Linked DNA regions of Homo sapiens. The protein of the gene in region 1 interacts with the protein of each later gene in a pairwise test. Each region holds a gene or a part of one and is shown on either strand. Other genes may lie near its edges. The genes, in order: MAP2K1, BTRC and PDGFRL.

What was found.
Region 2: the proteins of MAP2K1 (region 1) and BTRC interact in binary tests that used the Homo sapiens proteins (3 or more experiments, as listed by UniProt).
Region 3: the proteins of MAP2K1 (region 1) and PDGFRL interact in a two-hybrid assay, tested with the Homo sapiens proteins (one large-scale study listed by BioGRID and IntAct).

What each region holds. Positions count from the first base shown.
Region 1 is NC_000015.10:66,385,412-66,389,011, forward strand, and holds the start of MAP2K1 (dual specificity mitogen-activated protein kinase kinase 1), read left to right. Parts: upstream 1-1,500; 5' UTR 1,501-1,936; coding exon 1,937-2,016; intron 2,017-3,600. UniProt on the Homo sapiens protein: Dual specificity protein kinase which acts as an essential component of the MAP kinase signal transduction pathway.
Region 2 is NC_000010.11:101,525,026-101,528,753, reverse strand, and holds part of BTRC (F-box/WD repeat-containing protein 1A), read right to left. Parts: intron 2,742-3,728; coding exon 2,555-2,741; intron 1-2,554. UniProt on the Homo sapiens protein: Substrate recognition component of a SCF (SKP1-CUL1-F-box protein) E3 ubiquitin-protein ligase complex which mediates the ubiquitination and subsequent proteasomal degradation of target proteins. Recognizes and binds to phosphorylated target proteins.
Region 3 is NC_000008.11:17,636,014-17,639,741, forward strand, and holds part of PDGFRL (platelet-derived growth factor receptor-like protein precursor), read left to right. Parts: intron 1-3,728.

The DNA.
Region 1 (3,600 bases):
TGGGTATTGTGCCTCTTATTAAGCTCTTTATTCACATCTTATTTCTTTAGTAATTCACAGAATTGGAATTTTTGGATTAAAGTTCTTTTTTTTTTTGAGACGGGGTCTCACTCTGTCGCCCAGGCTGGAGTGCAGTGGTGTGATCTTGGATCACTGCAACCTCCGCCTCCCGAGTTCAAGCAATTCTCTGCCTCAGCCCCCCAAGTAGTTGGGATTACAGGCACCCGCCACCACGCCCAGCTAATTTTTTGTATTTTTAGTAGAGATGGGTTTCACCATCTTGGCCAGGCTGGTCTTGAACTCCTGACCTCGTGATCCACCCGTCTCGGCCTCCCAAAGTTCTGGAATTACAGGCGTGAGCCACCGCGCCTGGCCTGGATGAAAGTTTTTTTAAAGGGAGTCTTGCTCTGTAGCCCTGGCTGGTGTGCAGTGGTGTGATCATAGCTCACTGCAGCCTCAAACTCCTGGGCTCAAGTGATCCTCCAGCCTCAGCCTCCTCAGTAGCTTGGACGACAGCTGCACACAACCATGCCCAGCTAATAGAGACGGGGGACTCACTATGTTGCCCAGGCTAGTCTCGAACTCCTGGGCTCAAGTGATCCTCTTGCCTGGGCCTCCCAAAATTGGGATTACAGGCGTGAGCCACCGCTCCTGGCCCGAAAGAGTGTTTTTAAGGCTTTAAAAAAATATTGCCAACATGGTGAAAACCCGTTTCTACAAAAATACAAAAAGGATCCGGGCATGACGGCGAGTGCCTGTAATCCCAGCTACTCAGGAGACTGAGGCAGGAGAATCGCTTGAACGTGGGAGGCAGAGGTGGTAGTTAGCGGAGATCGCGCCACTACACTCCAGGCTGGGCAACTGAGGGAGACACCGTCTTAAAAAAAAAAAAGTTCCCAAGTCTAAAAAAAAAAAAATCATCAATCTGCTCTCAAAAACTGTCGCAACAATTTACAATCTCATCAGCACTGAGTATCCATTTCCTTGCACCCTTCTCAGTAGTATTACCATTAAACAAACAAAATTTATATGCGTCAGTTTGTTGGGCTCAAAGGAGCCTCTCGACAAGTTTCCTATTCCCCACGCTGCCTCTCCTCTGGACACAGGAAGGGGTCCTTTTCCTTATTTATTTTGTTATTTCATTTTCGTCAACACGGCTCGGCTTGGGGACAGGGGTCGGGGGCAGGCCGGTTACCGCAGAGGTGGAGGCCGCGCGGCACCTGGCCTGGAGAGCTCACCACACAGCGACACAGACTTCTTCTCAGCTGGGTCCACCTGCTTGCCTCGGGGCGACAGAGGGCGCCACGGCGTCCGCGACGGACCCCGCCCCCAGGCAGTGCGCCGCGCTCCCGTGACGTATTTCCGCGTCATCTGCCGCCGAGGCTTGCCCCCATTGGTTGTCTGCGAGGCAATAGGGGCGGAGCCGAGTGGGAGTGTGGAAAGCGCCGCATCCCGGGTGGGAGGCGAGGCTTCCCCTTCCCCGCCCCTCCCCCGGCCTCCAGTCCCTCCCAGGGCCGCTTCGCAGAGCGGCTAGGAGCACGGCGGCGGCGGCACTTTCCCCGGCAGGAGCTGGAGCTGGGCTCTGGTGCGCGCGCGGCTGTGCCGCCCGAGCCGGAGGGACTGGTTGGTTGAGAGAGAGAGAGGAAGGGAATCCCGGGCTGCCGAACCGCACGTTCAGCCCGCTCCGCTCCTGCAGGGCAGCCTTTCGGCTCTCTGCGCGCGAAGCCGAGTCCCGGGCGGGTGGGGCGGGGGTCCACTGAGACCGCTACCGGCCCCTCGGCGCTGACGGGACCGCGCGGGGCGCACCCGCTGAAGGCAGCCCCGGGGCCCGCGGCCCGGACTTGGTCCTGCGCAGCGGGCGCGGGGCAGCGCAGCGGGAGGAAGCGAGAGGTGCTGCCCTCCCCCCGGAGTTGGAAGCGCGTTACCCGGGTCCAAAATGCCCAAGAAGAAGCCGACGCCCATCCAGCTGAACCCGGCCCCCGACGGCTCTGCAGTTAACGGGACCAGCTCTGCGGAGTAAGTATGGGGCGGGCGGTGAACCTCGGGGCCCGGCTGGGGAGGCCCGAGCCGGGGAGCAGGAGCGCGCGCCAGGCTCCGATCTGGTTTGTCACGTACGTCTGGGGCTGGCAGGGGGCGAGAAACTCCCGGCCGCCGAGGTATCGGTGACTAAGCACTGATTGTGTTCCTGACTCAGACCAGTTAGCGGATCCCGCGGGTCTCCATTCCTCTCTGTACCCCTTTTCCCGACCGTTTTAGTGGTTCCTGGCCACTGTACAGTCTTCTCCCAAGAAAATAAAAGCTAGCACGTCTCCCCTGCCTCCTCCCAGTTCTGTTCTAAATGTGATCATCTGGGAGTCTGGCCTGTAACGGGGAGAGGAGGCTAATGTTTTGGAAAGAATTAAGATCGCATCTGTGCTTTTGAGACCAGCTCAGGGTATTAAGTGTGGAGCATCATCCTCACCTTCATGCCTGACACCTGTGGGGCCTGAGTGCCTTGTTGCAGGCCAACTGCCTGGCCAGCGGGGGCGTGCTGGAAGTCCGTGTGGACTTCGTGGCTTTTCCTTGCTGACTTTGGAGGTTCCTGGTACTTGGCCTTCCTGGGAAATTGCTCAAGAAAGCGGCTTTCTTCTTCATCCTACTCTTCATTCATTCATTGAACAAACCATTTTCTCACTAATGATTTCCTAGCTTTCCGTACTTCACCAGGAGCCCCTAAACTCCTGACCTGAGGCATGAACACCATGACCTAGAAACCACATGCTAGGTGCTCCATCTCTGCAGCTTCCAGCGTTGCTTACAAACGAGCACTTTATTTCATTAAATAATCATGAGTCTGTTTCCTGGGGGTTTCTGAGCTCCCACAACTCTCTTGGGTTCTAGGTAAGGGACAAGACTATGTGAGGGAAAGCTGCTTAGCTAGCTAGAGAAATAGCCAGAAAAGATTAGGTTATTATTATTTTTTTGCCTTTTTTTGGTTGTTGTTTGCCCAACCTTCAATAAGGATTGGGTTCTTAATCTTTTACCTGCACACTGCAGACTTTAGGAAGCTAATTGATGAAATCAGAATAGGCTTGGACCTTATGCTCTTTGGTGATTTCTGTAACCTCCCTTCCTTTCTCTAGATTTTTAGAAAATTTTATTTTTTAAACTTTTATACAGATGGGGTCTTGCTATATTGCTTAGGCTGGTCTTGAACTCCTGGACTCTAGCGATCCTCCCAAAGTGCTGGGATTACAGGCATGAGCCACTATGCCCAGCCAACTTTCTCTAGATTTTAATAACCCGGGGACCTGTTGGCTTGATGACTTGTTCCATCCCTGTAATGATCACAAGGTCGATGGTGGACCTGTGGTGTGTGTTCAGCTGTGTTTTTCAGACCTGCTCCCAACAGACTCTCTTCTTTAGTCCCCTCTCAATCCTGTGGGGTCTATTTTGCATAATACTGACTTGTATAGGTAGTTGGATTGCATTATTGCATTGCAAACATTTGTTCTTTTTTTTTTTTTTTTTTTGAGTCGGAGTTTCACTCTTGTTGCCCAGGCTGGAGTGCAATGGTGCGATCTTGGCTAACTGCAGCCTCTGCCTCCCGGGTTCAAGCGA
Region 2 (3,728 bases), on another chromosome or scaffold:
AAGACAACTTGAAAGAAGAAAATGAGAAACTGATGGAGTAAATTTTTTTTTAAAAAAGGGAAGAAAACTGACACAGGAATAAAGTCAACATGTAAAAACAGAAGCAGCAACAAGAAAGTCGAGGGAATAATGGAGGAAGTTGACACGGGATGTATAAGTATTTGGAATTTCATGGGTTTATCATGGGATTAAGAGGATAAACATGCCCAAAGACAAGGGGATATAGTCAGAACTCTGAAGGATACTCAAAAGAGCGGGAATGGGTTTCTGTGGATAAAGAGATAGGGGAAAAAAGTGGTAATTAGTGCTGGATCCTGGATTACTTCACCTACCCTTTAGAAAGGCTCAAAAGCCATCTTCTCAATGATTGTTTTTTCTTTGTAACTAACATAAAAGATCTTGCCATTTAGTGCCAATCCCAAGCAAAACTGTGGAGCCTTTTACCTTTGGCATTTTCACATCCATCTGCCAAGAACTGCCCACTTACTTCTTGATCTTTCTGCCTTCAAAAAAGGACTCAGTAAACTCCCAATTTATGATGAAGGTTTACTGTCATTTACAGTCCAAATGGGAACACAATGTATTTTAACAGGTAACAGAACCTTTATAGCTAAAGGAATGAATCTCCTTAACTGAAATTTCAGGAGTTATTTGGAGACGAGATTCTTTTTTTCTGAGGGATACAGAAATCTTCTCAGCTGCCCTAAAATTTTCTCATGTAAGCAACTGCCTGCTGTATCCCCAAGGCTGGTCCCAGCACTCTTAGCAAAATGATGGACCCCGAATACCATATAACTCCATTTTTATTTGCTTTGTTGTACTATTAAAGAGTTTATTTCCAAAGTATGAAGTAGGTTATGAAAGATTTCTATTTTTCTATGTAGCGAAATAAGAATTAAAAAACATATTTGAGAAGTAGTAATAATATTCTTTTGTGTGTGTGTGTGTGTGTGTGTGTATGTGAGAGAGAGAGAGAGAGAGAGAGAGAGAGACAGAGAAAGAGACAGGGTCTTGCTCTGTTGCCCAGGCTGGAGTGCAGTGGCATGACCACAGCTCACTGCAGCCTCAACTTCCCAGACTCAAGCCATCCTCCCACCTTAGCCTCCTGAGTGGCTGGGATTACAGGCATGCGCCACCAGGCCCAGCTAATTTTTTGATTTTTTTGTAGAGATGAGGTCTCAATATGTTGCCCAGCCTGGTATCAAACTCCTGGGCTCAAACGATCCTCTTGCCTTGGCCTCCAAAACTGTTGGGATTACAGGCGTGAGCCACCCCACCCGGCCAACAATATTCTTTGTTACACAGCCTAAAAATTGCCTAGTTTTTTTGTTCCTTTAATTCAATTTGAGAGAAAAATTTAAACAGTCTTCCTAATAGCCAGAATGATAAAAATCTGAGGCATTTGGTATAATATTTATAGGTCATTGTATTTATTATGTGTTAATAAATTTCAAAGATAGAAAAAAAGAAAGAGAGCCAACTACTTTTTCATGAAAATTCAAAGGAAAGCTGGCCCATGAATATTTATCTTTTAAAAGTGTTCTCTACTTTTAACTGTTTTCCTCTTTATGATCCAAGATAAACAACTGATAAAATTAATTTGGAAGGACATCACTAAGCACACACATGCCTATTATAATTTTTTCTGTCAATGAGAATATTTAATATGTCACCTTTATTTGTGAACTATTACTACGTAGCTTTCCTATAGTGACATTCTAGAGACATACTCTGAGAGAAAAGTATTTAAAGAAAGATATCTTTCAGAAGTTCTAATGAAATAGTACTGTTAAGAGAACAACAAAAAAATTAGTGAAGTCTCTTAGACTGCTAACTATATGATGCTTTGGGGAATTCGGAATTAAGTCAGAAAATCTTGAAAAACAGAAGTCTTAAGAAGAAACAATGATTTATACTTAATTTCATTTTCACTTTTTCTGATGGCTAGAGTTCTTATTCCACTTGGGCTTAAAAATAATTTTTGATTACAAAGGTGACAAAACACCAGAGGCATAAGATAAAGGCAAGAAATTTTCTGAAAGAAACCTAGGGTTCATGCGATTCTCCTGCCTCAGCCTCTACAGTAGCTGGGATTACAGGTGCACGCCACCATACTCGGCTAAATTTTGTATTTTTAGTAGAGTTGGGGTTTCGCCACGTTGGCCAGGCTGGTCTCAAACTCCTGGCCTCGAGTGATCTGCCCACCTTGGCCTCCGAAAGTGCTGGGATTGCAGGCGTGAACGCACTGTGCCCAGCCACAGGATACCAACTTCTGCCCAGATAACAGAATGTTTTAAACAGGAGGGCTGATCAGCTTTCCATTATTTTTTGCAAAGCAGTATTAATACAATATCATGTCATTTTGTGAGTGACAGGTAAGAAGAAAAACTGCTGAGTATATGAACATTTGTTCTCTGTTACATTTTAAGCTAGAAATCAACAAAATCACCATATTAAATGAGAAGTGGTCTCATTGGCTCCCCAAAAATCTTTCAGTGACTGTGAATGGCCAGGTCCTGAAGCCGTATAAGAGTAAGAAAAGTTAAAGGCTCACCATCCTCTTCGTTCTGCCAGGCCTCTCCACAGAGAATCTGTCCTGACCATTCTCTCGATAAGCTTCTTCCACAGCATGCCATCAGAGGTCACTCGGTACCATTCCTTGCACACAAGTTCAGCAGCACATAGTGATTTGGCATCCAGGTATGACAGAATGTTCTCAGCAATATGATCCAATCCCCGAGCTTTCAGTAGGGGGAGGAGGCAAAGAAAAAGAACACAGAAGGTGGCGAATGATTTTTTACAAAAGGTCCTTTAAAACAGAACAGCATTTGTTCTGCTATGAAGGCACATCATTGTCCCTAGTGTGGTCCAGTTTCTTTTTCAAACAGAGGCTTGGGTAAAATGAGTGTCAATAATTTTTCCATAAGGTTACAGAAATGAACAGTATTTTCCATCTTCCTTTAGATAAGGAAGTTAAAGCTAACAACCAGCAAACCCCCCAAGACATTAAAAATAAAAAGGATTCCAGAAAACAATTCACATCTATCTATATGGATTTCAGCACTAGGGGATGTTCTATGGATGGCATCTCAAACTCTATGATTCAGACCCCCCCAAATCTCTATATTAGGTCCATTTCTCATTCTGTTTCTATTACTGCTGTAGTTCCAAAGCTGTTCGGTAAAAGAAATGTCCTTTAAATGTACTAGGGGAGAGGCACTAAGTCAGAATGTGCTGGGTTATAGAATTTTGGGCATGCAGAAAGGAGAGAAGAAGGAAATACAGAATGGCATGGAAATATCCCAAGAGAAAGACAGAGATGTATGTTTAAGTTCAAGAATGGGTTTAATTTCAGATTTAAAAAAACTATATTTGAGAGTAGCTGCTGCTATAAAACCTAAATGACAGTTGGGCAAAAATGAAAAAAAATTCCAGACCAAAAGATAACTTGGTTAGCATTTCAGAGAATATTTTGTAGGAGGTGCAGAGGAAAACAGTGGAGAACAGATCTTGGGGAGTGTAAACCAGAAGGGCTTCCCAATTAAAGTTCTCCACCACCCAAATCTGTACTGAGGTCTCAGAAGAAAAGATCCTATAAAATAGGATGATCTCACTAAAAAAACTTCTTTTGCCTGCTGTTCTACATTTACAACTGAGATAAAAACATTCAAAGTTATTTCTGTTTACAAAGTACATATCAGAGGTTTTCTACAGACTTAAATAGTTCA
Region 3 (3,728 bases), on another chromosome or scaffold:
TTAGTCCTTTTTCAGATGTATGGATTGCAAAAATTTTCTCCCACTCTGTGGGTTGTGTGTTTATTCTACTGATTATTTCTTTTGCTGTGCAGAAGTTTTTTAGTTTAATTAAGCCCGATCTATCTTTGTTTTTGTTGCATTTGCTTTTTGGTTCTTGGTCATGAACTCTTTGCCTAAGCCAATGTCTAGAAAGGTTTTTCCACTGTTATCTTCTAGAATTTTTATGGTTTCAGGTCTTAGATTTAAGTATTTGATCCACCTTGAGTTGATTTTTGTATAAGGTGAAAGATAAGGATTCAGTCTTATTCATCATCTACATTTGGCTTGCCAATTATCCCAGCACCATTTGGTGAATAGGGTGTCCTTTCCCCATTTTATGCTTTTGTTTGCTTTGTCAAAGATCAGTGTAAGTATTTGGGTTTATTTCTGGGTTCTCTATTCTGTTCCACTGGTCTATGTGCTATTTTTATACCAGTACCATGCTGTTTTGGTGACTATGGCCTTATAGTATAGTTTGAAGTCAGGTAATGGGATGCCTCTAGATTTGTTTTTTTTTTTTGCTTAGTCTTGTTTTGGCTCTGCAGATTCTTTTTTGGTTCCACATGAATTTTAGGATTGTTTTTTCTAGTTCTGTGAAGAATGATGGTGGTGTTTTGGTGGGAATTGCATTGAATCTGTGGATTGCTTTTCGCAGTATGGTCATTTTCACAATATTGATTCTACCCATCCATGAGCATGCGATGTGTTTCCATTTGTTTGTGTCATCTATGATTTCTTTCAGCAGTGTTTTGTAGTTTTCCTTGCAGAGGTCTTTCACCTCCTTGATTAGGTATATTTCTGAGTATATATATTTTTTGCAGCTATTATAAAAGGGGTTGAGTTATTGATTTGATTCTCAGCTTGGTTGCTGTTGGTTTATAGCAGAGCTACTGATTTGTTTACATTAATTTTGTATCCTGAAACTTTGCTAAATTCATCTATCAGTTCTAGCAGCTTTTTGGAGGAGTCTTTAGGGTTTTCTAGGTATATGATTACATCATCAGCAAACAGCGACAGTTTGACTTCGCTTTATTGATTTGGATGCCCTTTATTTCTTTCTCTTGTCTGATTGCTCTGGCGAGGACTTCCAGTACTATGTTGAATGCAAGTGGGCATCCTTGTCTTGTTGCAGTTCTCAGGGGAAATGCTTTCAACTTTTTCCCATTCAGTATAGACAGTTTTCATTACCTTAAGGTATGTCCCTTCTATGCCAATTTTGCTGAGGGTTTTAATCATAAAGGGATGCTGGATTTTGTCAAATGTTTTTTGTGTGTCTGTTGAGATGATCATGTGATTTTTTGTTTTTAATTCTATGTGGTGTATCCCATTAATGTCTTGTGTATGTTAAACCACCCCAGTATGAAACCCATTTGATCATGGTGGACTATCTATTTGATATGCTGTTGGATTTGGTTAGCTAGTATTTTGTTAAGGATTTTTGCATCTATATTCATCAAACATGTTGGTCTATAGTTTTCTCTTTTTTGTTATGTCCTTTCCTGGTTTTGGTATTAGGGTGATACTGGCTTCACAGAATGATTTAGGGAGGATTCCTTCTTTCTCTGTCTTGTGAAATAATGTTGATAGGATTGATACCAGTTCTTAGAATGTCTGATAGAATTCATTTGTGAATCCATCTGATTCTGGGCTTATTTTTGTTGGCAGTTTTTTAAATTACCATTTCAATCTCACTGCTTGTTATTGGTCTGTTCAGAGTTTCTCTTTCTTCCTGGTTTAATCTAGGAGGGTGGTATAATTCCAGGAATTTATCCATCTCTTCTAGGTTTTCTAGCTTGAGTATGTAAAGCTGTTCACAGTAGCCTTGAATTATCTTTTGTATTTCTGTGGTATTGGTTGTAATATCTTGTTTCATTTCTAACTGAAGCTTATTTGGATCTTCTTGGTTAATTTTGTTAATAGTCTATCAGTTTTATTTATCTTTTCAAAGAATCAGCTTTTTGTTTATCTTTTGTATTTTTTTGGTTCAATTTCATTCAGTTCTGCTCAGATCTTTATTTCTTTTGTTCTGCTATGTTTGGGTTTGGTTTGTTCTGGTTTTTCCAGTCCTTGAGGTGTGACCTTAGATTGTCTATTTGTGCTCTTTCAGACTTTTTGATGTAGTCATTTAATGCTATGAACTTTCCTCTTAGCACTGCCTTTGCTGTATACCAGAGGTTTTGATAGGTTGTGCTACTATTTTCATTCAGTTCAAATAATTTTTTAACTTCCATCGTGATTTCATTCTTGACCCAGTGATCATTCAGGAGCAGGTTATTTAATTTCCATGTGTTTGTATGTTTTGAGGGTTGCTTTTGGAATTGAGTTCCAATTTTATTCCACCGTGGTCTGAGAGAGTACTTGATATAATTTCAGTTTTCTTAAATTTATTGAAACTTGTTTTGTGGCTTATGATATGGTCTCTCTTGGAGAATGTTCCATGTGCTGATGAATAGAATGTATATTCTGCAGTTGTTGGGTCGAATGTTCTACAAATAGCCCTTAAGTCCATTTGTTCTAGGTTATAGTTTAAATCCATTGTTTCTTTGTTGATGTTCTGTCTTGATTACCTATCTATTGCTGACAGTGGAGTATTGAAGTTCCCCACTATTACTGTGTTGCAGTCTATCTCATTTCTTAGGTGTAACAGTAATTGTTTTATAAATTTGGGAGCTCTGGCATTAGGTGCATATATATATATATATATATATATATATATATATATATATATATATATAATTGTGATATTTTCCTGTTGGGCAAGTCCTTTTATCATTACATAATGTCCGTCTTTCTCTTTTTTAACTGCTGTTTCTTTAACGTTTGTTCTGTCTGATATAAGAACAGCTACTCCTCTATAAGACAGGCCTGCACCTGTAATCCCAGCTACTAAGGAGGCTGAGGCACAAGAATCACTTGAACCTGGGAGGTGGAGGTTGCATTGAGCCAAGATTGAGCCATTGCACTCCAGTCTGGCCGACAGAGTGAGACTCTGTCTCAAACAAAACAAAACAAACAAAAAGAATAGCTACTCCTGCTCACTTTGGTGTCCCTTTGCATGGAATATCTTTTCCCAGCCCTTTACCATAAGTTTATGTTAGTCCTATTTGTTAGGTGAGTCTCTTCAAAACAGCAGATACTTGGTTGGTGACTTCTTACCCATTCTGCCATTCTGAATCTTTTAAATGGAGCATTTAGGCCATTTACATTCAACATTAGTATTCAGATGTGAGGTACTATTCTATTCATCTTGCTATTTGTTGCCCGAATACCTTGGTTTTTATTTATTTATTTATTTATTGTGTTTTTGTTTTATAGGTCCTATGAGATTTATGCTTTAAGAAGGTTCTATTTTGGTGTATTTCAAGGATTTGTTTCAATATTTAGTGCTCCTTTTAGCATTTCTTACAGTGCTGGGTTTGTAGTGGCGAATTTTCTCAGCATTTGTTTGTCTGAAAAAGACTGTATCTCTCCTTCATTTATGAAGCTTAGTTTTGCTGTACACAAAATTCTTAGATGATGATTCTTTTGTTTAAGGAGGCTGAAGGTAGGGCCTCAATTTCTTCTAGCTTGTAGGGTTTCTGCTGAGGAATCTGCTGTTAATCTGACATGTTTTCCTTTATAAGTTATCTGGTGCTTTTGCCTCACAGCTCTTAAGATTCTTTCCTTCATCTTCGCTTTAGATAACCTGA